Regions from separate parts of the Homo sapiens genome. Here regions 1 and 3 are each reported to be linked to region 2. Evidence: microRNA targets listed by miRTarBase, many of them from high-throughput screens and not tested one by one. Region 2 holds a microRNA gene; each other region holds the end of a gene's coding sequence.

Region 1 (3,359 bases), not on the chromosome of region 2:
ACCTTACAAATGTAAAGAATGTGGCAAAGCTTTTAACCTATCCTCAACCCTTACTGCACATAAGAAAATTCATACTGGAGAGAAACCCTATAAATGTGAAGAATGTGGCAAAGCTTTTAACCAATCCTCAAACCTTACTACACATAAGAAAATTCATACTTCAGAGAAACCCTACAAATGTGAAGAATGTGGCAAATCCTTTAACCAGTTCTCATCTCTTAATATACATAAGATAATTCATACTGGAGAGAAACCCTACAAATGTGGAGATTATGGCAGAGCTTTCAACCTATCCTCAAATCTTACTACACATAAGAAAATTCATACTGGAGAGAAACCCTACAAATGTGAGTATGGCAAAACTTAATTGATCCTACAAGCTTACTACACATAGGAAAATTCATACTGGAGAGAAACTACAAATGTGAAGAATGTGTTAAAGCCTTTAACAAGTCTTCAACTTTTTCTGCACACACGAGGTATTTTATACTGGTGAGAAACCTTACAATGTAAAGAATGTGGCACAGCTTTTAACTAATCTTCAAACCTTACTGAAAGTTGAGAAAATTCGTACTGGAGAGAATCCTACAAATGTGAAAAATGTGGCAAATCCTTTAACTGATCCTCAACTTTTACTAAACATAAGGTAATTCATACTGGAGAAAAGCCATACAAATGAGAAGAATGTGGCAATGCCTTTAATCAGTCCTCACACCTTTCTACACATAAGATAATTTATACTGGAGAGGAACTCTATAGTTGTGAAGAATGTGGCAAAGCTTTTAACCAATCCTCATACCTTACTATACAGAAATTCATACTGGAGAGAAAGCCTACAATTGTGAAGAATGTGGCAAAGCTTTTAACCTTCCTTAACCCTTAACTGTAGATAAGAAAATTCATACTGGAAAGAAACCCTACAAATGTGAAGTCTGTGGCAAAGCTTTTAACTGATTCTCAACTCTTACTACATGTAAGAGTATTTATACTGGAAAGAAACCCTACAAATGTAAAAAACGTGGCAATGCCTTTAACTGGTCCTCACACCTTGCTACATATAAGACAGTTTATACTTTGAGAGAAACCCTGCAAATGTGAATAATGTGGCAATACTTTAAACCAATCCTCAAACCTCACTAAACATAAGATAATACTGAAAACTTTACAAACCTGAATGATGTGACAATAATTTTGACAACACCTCGAACTTTCTAACATAAATCATACTGGTGAAAAATCCTAGAAATGTGAAAAATATCACAAAGCCTTTAAATGGTTGTCACACTTGATTGTAGGTAAGAATCCATACTGAAGAAAACTCCTGGAAGTGTAAAAAATGTGGCAACACTTTTAATAAATGCTCACCCCTTATTGCACAGGAAAGCATTTATACTTCAGAAAGATTGTACAAATACAAGGAATGTGGAAAAGCCATTATTATCTGCTCAGATTTTACTCAACATTAGAGAGTTAGTACGTAATAAAAGCATTATAAATGCAATTTTTGTCAAGAGATCTTTCAGAAAATATAAGCCTTTAAAGTGAAGAAGAGGAGCCAGTTGTGCTGGCTCACATCTGTAATGCCAGCACTTTGGGAGGCCAAGGTGGGTGGATCACCTGAGGGCAGGAGTCTGAGACCAGCCTGGCCAACATAGCAAAACCCCATCTCTATTAAAAATTTTACAAAAATTAGCTGCGTGTGGTGGCAGGCCCCTGTAATCCCAGCTAATTGGGAGGCTGAAGCAGGAGAATTGCTCAAACCTGGGAGGCGAAGATTGCAGTGAGCTGAAATCACACCACTACACTCCAGCCAAAGCAACAAGAGCAAAAACTTCGTCTCAAAAACAAAACAAAAAAAGAGTATTCATTGTGAGGACAAACAATACAAATACGAAGAGGGTTGTAGTACCTTTACTTGTATCACAGATACTTTTGTACCCATTTTGCACTAGAGGAAAACCATGAAGCAGTTGCTCAAATGTTGTTCAACACCAGAAAATTTATATTGGAGAAAAGCACTGTAAATGTAATGCATTTGTGAAAACATTTTTTAAAAAACTACAGCTTAGAAAATACCAGAGGCCTCATACTAAAATATATTTTTGCAAGTGAAGTAAATATAAAAATAATTTAATCCAAAATTAAGTCTATATAAATATCAGAGAATTCACAGTAGAAATATCTAAGGTACTGACACTTCAGACATTGCTGAGTATAGAATCAGAATGCTGAGTATAGAAAATAATTTAAAACTAAAGTTGGTAGGTAAATAATGTGTATATAACTTTAAAAGAAGTAGAATTTTTTTGTAGATGTATAATTACATTCAAATTATATTTTTTCTTGAAAAATTAGTTTTTGAAAAGCAAATGATGTAATTCAACTCAAATTCATGCTCTTCATTCCTATTGTATTCACATGTGAAAGCATGTGATTAATTTTTCATGCATCAAAGATATGAGAAATCATTTCTGTTAGGTCGGTATTATTTATGACACTTTCTATGAAAGAATAAGGACATTAAAATGTAAGATGCATGATGAAAACCTGAGTGAAGAGGCTGTTTGTGTTTAACTTATAATATTGAGTGATCCATGAAGTAGGTTTTCAGAGCAATATTCTTCTGCATTATAGTAAGAGAAAACCATTTTTAATCTTAGTTAAAATTAAAGTGAATTAGTAGTATATCATTTTACTATTTGTACTTTTATGTAATAAAATGCAATGTGTTTAAAAATTTTTGGATTATGCGTGAACTTAGTTTTTTAATTAAACTTTTTTTAACATGTTAAAACTATTGTGCATTCAATGAAGTGTTTTCATGCCACTGACTTTACCTATCCCACATTACTCAAGGGTTTAGGTAAAAGAGGGTAACAGTATACTACTTGATAACATAATGGGCTAACATCTCTAATAATTATTTTTGCTAGTGACTTTAAACTGCTAATAAAGAATATTGTTCCCATAGGTTAGATTTTTATTCTTTTTAAAATTTAAACTTATTTCTCTTAATTTTTGTGGATACATAGTATGTGTATATCTTTATGCCATGTATGGCATATTTTGATACAGGCATATAATTTTATGTATTAATCACATCAGGGCAAAAGATGTATCCATCAACTCCAGCATTTCTCCTTTGTATTACAAACCAATTCTGCACTTTTAGATACTTTAGAATGTACAGTCGTTACTACAGGGTCATTTTATGGTTATAATAAAAATTATATACAAGTATAAATAAACCATGAGAAAATTCTGAGTTCTGAATAAACATTTAAAAAATGTTATATATTTTTCTTTGAACATGTGACCTCTCTGCCTGCAAACATACAGCATTTTAGTTTTGATTTACA
Region 2 (3,359 bases):
CTCTGCTCCCTGGCTGTCTTAGTCATGGAATCTGACAACAGAGACTCCTGCCCAGGGCCACTTCATTTGGTTTCTGGACCCCAGTGGTCCTTCCTGCCTGGACTTAGGATCTTTTGGGGAAGTTTGGGATCTGGCAGGGCATCTGCATAATCCATAGAAATCCCTGAGAGTCACTTCCCTTGGCTGACATCTCCATGTTCCTACCCATTACCTTCCAAAGGAGACCCTTAACTGAATTACCAAAGGGGGCTTCCCAGAGCAGGGAAACCCGGTTAACTTTCTATTTCAGGTCAACAGTATACTTGAGATGTACTTGAACTAGAAATGATTGGTTGTTTAGGTGTGGGCATTTGTTTTTCCTAACTTAGTCTCCAAGAAAAAAAATTATTGAGGTTTTACAGCCTAGCCTGTGGTCTATCCTGAAGAATGTTCGTGTGTGTGACAATGTACATTCTTTTTTTCCCCCCAGCTCTGTCAAATCTTACTGAGGAGCTTTTACGGCCTAGCCTGTGGTCTGTCCTGGAGGGTATTTGTGTGTACAACAATGTATATTCTTAAACATTATCTTAGATTCCATTTTGGATGTTCCCATCAGGACTGTGTGTTTCTGTGCTGGAACTCAAGTGAACACTGGCTCAACATCCTTAGAAATCCAGCCCAATTCTCTTGGTTAAAGATAAGGTATGTGTGGTAGGCATTGCTTTTTCTCTTTGGGGACAAAACTCAGGAGGATTGCCCCTTGATGAACAAGGCTAACCTGCTAAGCCTTTGAAGCAAGGAACTGGAGATGGTCCTTTCAGGGGTTTATGTTCTGGATTCCATAAAACATGCAAACAGGGGCAATGAATGCACCTTTTTTATTTTTATTTTTATTTTTTTTTGAGATGGAGTCTTACTCTTGCCAGTCTGGAGTGCAGTGGCACGATCTCGGCTCACTGCAACTTCTGCCTCCTGGTTCAAGTAATTCCCCTGCCTCAGCCTCCCGAGTAGCTGGGACTACAGGTACATGCCACCACAGGCGGCAAATGGTTGTATTTTTAGTAGAGACGGAGTTTCACCATGTTGGCCAGGATGGTCGTGGTCTCTTGACCAGCCTCCCAAAGTGTTGGGATTCCAGGCGTGAGCCACCGCGCCTGGCCAATGAATGCATCTTTATTTTTGTGTTCATTTTAATCTGGTAAGGTAAATTCCAACAAAAAACCCAGAGTTTTGGAGTGAGAAGATCTCATGCAGTCATTCTCCAAAAGAAAGCACTTTCTGTTGTCTGAAAGCAGAGTGCCTTCTTTTGGAGCGTTACTGTTTGAGAAAAACCACGTTGAAGTTGATGCTGATCTTGGTAACACATTTGCAGAGCGTGCTTATCATCAGACTTGCATGATGTTGGGGTTCTGTTTTTGTTTAGTTTTTTTGCAACACAGGGTCTCTTGCCCAGGCTGGAGTGCGGTGACACTTCCAACCTAGACCTCTTGGGCTCAGTTGGTCCCTGCCCCCACCCCCTCCCCCTTTTTTTTCTCTTGAGACAGTCTCTCTCTGTGGCCCAGGCTGGAGTGCAGTGGTATGTTCTCTGCTCACTGCAACCTCTGCCTCCCGAGTAGCTGGTATTACAGGCACATGCCACCACGCCTGGCTAATTTTTGTATTTTTAGCAGAGACGGAGTTTCATCATGATGGCCAGATTAGTCTTGAACTCCTGACCTTAGGTGATCCACCTGCCTCGGCCTCGCAAAGTGCTGGGATTACAGGCATGAGCCACTGTGCCTGGCCCACAACGTATATTCTTAAATATCATCTTAGATTCCATTTTGGTTGCTCCCATCGGGACTGTGTGTCCCTGTGCTGGAACTCAAGTGAACACATGGCTCAAAATCCATTGCTGTTCTCTAGAAATCCAGCCCAATTCTCTTGGTTAAATATAAGGTATGTGTGGTAGGCTTTGCTTTTTCTCTTTGGAGACAATACTCAGGAGGGTTGCCCCTTCGTGAACAAGGCTAACCTGCTGAGCCTTTGAAGCAAGGAACTGGAGATGGTCCTTTTAGGGGTTTATGTTCTGGATTCCAGAAAACATGCAAACAGGGACAATGAATGCATCTTTATTTTTGTGTCCATTTTAACCTGGTAAGGAAAATTCCAACAAAAACCCAGAGTTTTGGAGCGAGAAGATCTCATGCAGTCATTCTCCAAAAGGGAGCACTTTCTGTTTGAAAGAAAACAAAGTGCCTCCTTTTAGAGTGTTACTGTTTGAGAAAAACCACGTTGAAGTTGATGCTGATCTTGGTAACGCATTTGCAGAGCGTGCTTATCATCAGACTTGCATGATGTTGGGGTTCTGTTTTTGTTTAGTTTTTTTGCAACACAGGGTTTCTGTTGCCCGGGCAGGAGTGCGGTGGCGCTTCCAACCTAGACCTCTTAGGCTAGTTGGTCCCCCCTACTTTTTTTGTTGTTTTTGTTCTTGAGACAGAGTCTCACTATGTGGGCCAGGCGGGCAGGCAGTGACACATTCTCTGCTCACTGCAACCTCGGCCTCCCAAGTAGCTGGTATTATAGGCACGTGCCACCACGCCTGGCTAATTTTTGTATTTTTAGCAGAGATGGAGTTTCACCACATTGGCCAGGTTAGTCTTGAACTCCTGACCTCAGGTGATCTGCCCGCCTCTGCTTTCCAAAGTGGTGGGATTACAGGCATGAGCCACCCTGCTCGGACTGCAGGGTGTTTTTTTTTTTTTTTTTAATTATTATTTGTATTTTTTTGTGCTGCCAAAGCAAGCACTTGTGTGTAGGAATTTTGTTTGTTTGTTTGTTTGTTTGTTTGAGATGGAGTCTCATTCTTGTCGCCCAGGCTGGAGTGCAGTGGCATGATCTCGGCTCACTGCAACCTACGCCTTCCGGGTTCAAGCGATTCTCCTGCCTCAGCCTCCTGAGTAGCTGGGATTTCAGGTGCATGCCGCCACCCCGGCTAATTTTTGTCCTTTTGGTAGAATCGGGGTTTTGCCATGTTGGTCCGGCTGGTCTCAAACTCCTGACCTCAACTAATCCACCTGCCTCGGCCTCCCAAACTGCTGGGATTACAGGCATGAGCCACCGCACCCGGTGAGGAGTTATTTTTAATGTGAGCAAACAGTATATTCTTTTTTTTTTTTTTCATAGACAGGGTCTCAACAATATATGATGTATATTTAATCATATAGTCTTATCATGTATATAATGTAGTCATATGTACACCAAACCCTGTTCTACACACGGAGAATACTCTTGTATCACTTTGGGTATTTATTTACTTGTTTCTTTCTGTGTTTTTCTTGTTTGTTTGTTTGTTTTGTTTTGAGACAAGGTCTAGCTTTATCACCCAGGCTGGAGTGCAG
Region 3 (3,000 bases), not on the chromosome of region 2:
GAAATCACCCACAGCAGTCATGTCTTTGATGTTGTCTAACTGTTCTCCCTGTTCTGAATTCAGTCAGGACATAAAGGTTTTTAAAGTCTTATTTCCTTATAAAGTGGTTTCCTGGGCCAACCATGCCCGAGTCATAGTGAACCTAACAAGACACCCTTTTCAGTTTAGAGTTCCTGAGAAGGTAATAATAGGTTATATTTGCCTTCTTCAACGTGTCTGACTACTCCCTTGTCTTCCCACTCCCCTCTGCCCTGCTTCACTTCTGCACAGGCTCCCACTGCCCTGGCTCCTGTACACCGTCATTCACAGATTCCAGCCAGTGGCTGTCAGCAGCAATGGCCTTTTCTGTGCCATCGTCCTTCTCTTCATCATGCTGCTCTTCGTCATCCTCTCTATCGCCCTCTGCAAGTGGCGAATGAACAAAATCCTGGGCTTCATCATGTTTGGCCTCTACTTTGTGTTCCTGGTGGTGAGCGTTCTCCTAGAAGACAGAATTCTTACATGCCCCGTCTCCATCTAGCAGGAAAAGCCATATCTTGCACCAGCAGCATGAATGGTCCCTCCACACTCTGGGCTCTGGGCTCCTTGACCTCTTGAGAAGAGGCAGCTGGCACACAGCCCTGGGTGCCAAGTGTCCCTCCTTGGTGAATTTGAGGAGAGATGGATTCACACTGGGCCCATTCACTTCACAGGCTGCTTCCACCCTGCCTACTGAAATGACTTCATGTAAAAGACAAAGAGAACCGTCAATACAGGGCTTCTCCCTATTCACCACTGACAAGTACACCTCGCTGGTCGGAGGTACAGTCGATGCAAACAAGGACACAGGCTATATATATCTATAAATACACATATTATAAATATACGCACATGAACACACAAATCCTGCCTGTTCCTGTACTATACCTCTCCTTGCATACCTATAGATTAGTACATACCTGTAAATAAAGACAAAGAAAAATTATATATATATATATAAAATCAGATATATATAAAAGTACAAATGCATCTTTTCAGGGATAGCTCTAGTATATTTATAGTACTTATTTGAAGAGGGGCATCAACTTGCAGTCTGGGCTTTACCTCTTAAGTACAAGAGGTGAACTAATGGAACCAACAAGACAAAGGTAGCATTGCTGTGACCTTCAGCCTACCTTGGACTTGCTGTGATCCTGCCTAGTAAGGTAGATGGTTTAGGGAAATAGCTTGCAGGGAGGAGGGCTTAGTGGAGAAGGTCTGTAGGGGCCCTGAGTTGAGCCTTCCAAAACATTCCTACAAGCCAAACAGAGAGACTATCTGCCCACCTCCACCAGAGTACCCTGACCAAGAAACTCAGGGTACTTAGGACAGAAAGAGGTAAAAACCCAGGCTGGGTGGCTTGGTTTGGGGAAGTGGGGAGGTAACCAGGGTTGGGTTGTTTTGTTTTGTTCTTATATTGTCCCAGCATGCAAGTAGAAAATATGACTACAAACCAAATTAGTGCTTTTTCTAGGACAGCAAGACTATATAAACTGAACCTGTATTTTTCCAGCGCATGTCCCATTATCATCAAAAGAAGAGGGGTAAGTTTAGCTGTGATTGTCATGTAGATATATTTTGATGCTAAGGGCTGCCAAGAGAGCCTAGATGTGCAATAAGAAGTCATCCAGTAAAGGTGCTTAGTGGGCCTTGCCACCTAATGGGATGTAAGGGCATAGTTCTTTAAAACGTTTTCCAGTGTAGTCATAAAGGGCTTTAGTGTCTGAAGAAATCATTATTCCCAATAGCACTAACTTAACTCTGATCAGCACTGCTTGGGTTGAGGCAACTTAGCGATGCTTGGAAAGGCATTTGCACACTCAGTGCACCCCAGGAAGGTTTCTGAGTGCCAGGTCGAGTGGTACCAGGACCAGGCTTTGGTTAAAGTTCTTGTAACATCTATGTCTCTTCTTCCATCAAGACCTTATCTGGGATTCTGTCTAAGTTTTAGAGTACACGGTATTTGACAGCTTCCTTATACTGGTTTCAAGCTATTCACTCCAACAATTTGATTTCTTGATTTTGCTCAACATTACATTGAATGCATGAAATTAAAATATTCCACGCCCCCAAGTTCTGTATGACACCTTGTGTGTTTTCTCAGATCTATGTCAGTCGAAAATAAAGCCAGCAAGGGGGAAAAAATAGGCAAACTGAATCAATGGAAAACTATGTAGAGCACTTTTCTTTTCTCCAAGTCATGCTTTCCTTAAAATCAGTTGAAAAATTGAATCAAGGATGGTTCATTATTCTGTACCCATCCTACGTCTAAGTTGGTACATATGGCATATGGGAAATTTCACCATATGTGTTCCTATCTCCAATCTATTCTGTCATTGACGCCTGCTATGATTTTGTTGTGAGCACATACCTCTTAACATAAGAGGACAGGATGCAGAACTCACAGCAGAATAAGAGGAAAGGTAACCTGACAGCCCCAGATCAAGCTCAGTATTCCTTCCAGAAAACCTCAGCTCACCCCACAGAGCATGGCAATAACAGGAAATGCCCATCATTCCTCTTCACCCAGAAGTAAAAAGCACTTCAAACCCGAGGCCCCCTGGGAAAACAAGAAATCAAGATGGCTGCCAGTCGGAGGCTGGCTTTCAAGTCTCTCCAACTCGGCAGATTGGGGTCTTCAGATGTGGGACAATGCCTTCCAAGACATTGAAACACCATCCAATAGAGGCGCTGAGTGGAACCTGCCACCTAATGGGAATGAATCTCATTCATCAAGGTCAGGACTTTGTACTGGGGCAAGAATTTGTCCTGCTTCCTTAGAGAGTGAAAGAATGAGGAAGTGAACTTTACGTTTAAAAACTCCAGTTGTTTTCCCTGTGTATTTCTTGAAGGGCAACCAAGTTGGTTATTGTGTGAATTTTATATTATTGACTGGTGCGTTGTTTGAAATAAGGTTTAAATAGGTGACTGACTCAACTGCAAACAGACCATGTAAAACAGAAGTTGAAGGAGACCTGATGC

What was found. The annotated mature microRNA hsa-miR-515-5p reads UUCUCCAAAAGAAAGCACUUUCUG and lies in region 2 at 1,237-1,260, shown strand. An mRNA with a match to its seed (bases 2 to 7 or 8) in the 3' UTR can be bound and repressed. Matches are read on the target gene's strand: a 7mer-m8 pairs with bases 2 to 8, a 7mer-A1 pairs with bases 2 to 7 and ends in A, and an 8mer does both.
Region 1: miRTarBase lists ZNF107 as a target of hsa-miR-515-5p. Seed matches in the 3' UTR shown: 7mer-A1 at 658-664 and 8mer at 2,006-2,013.
Region 3: the mRNA of SLC24A2 is a reported target of hsa-miR-515-5p. Seed matches in the 3' UTR shown: 7mer-A1 at 1,227-1,233.

Annotation. Positions count from the first base shown.
Region 1 is chr7:64,708,290-64,711,648 of GRCh38, forward strand. It overlaps ZNF107 (zinc finger protein 107), which reads left to right. Exons shown (of 4, transcript NM_001282359.2): 4 at 1-3,288. The coding sequence ends at 367. Among named protein-coding and RNA genes, the nearest start is that of MIR6839, 31 kb to the left of the region's middle.
Region 2 is chr19:53,677,780-53,681,138 of GRCh38, forward strand. MIR515-1 (microRNA 515-1) reads left to right here and starts at 1,224; the gene lies at 1,224-1,306. It overlaps MIR519E (microRNA 519e), which reads left to right and starts at 2,161; the gene lies at 2,161-2,244. All of the region lies in intron 2 of LOC107985342 (a long non-coding RNA gene), which reads left to right. RefSeq lists an enhancer at 1-416.
Region 3 is chr9:19,513,673-19,516,672 of GRCh38, reverse strand. It overlaps SLC24A2 (solute carrier family 24 member 2), which reads left to right. Exons shown (of 11, transcript NM_020344.4): 11 at 271-3,000. The coding sequence ends at 520. The region is part of intron 4 of LOC105375988 (a long non-coding RNA gene); the gene reads right to left. Among named protein-coding and RNA genes, the nearest start is that of MAP1LC3BP1, 52 kb to the right of the region's middle.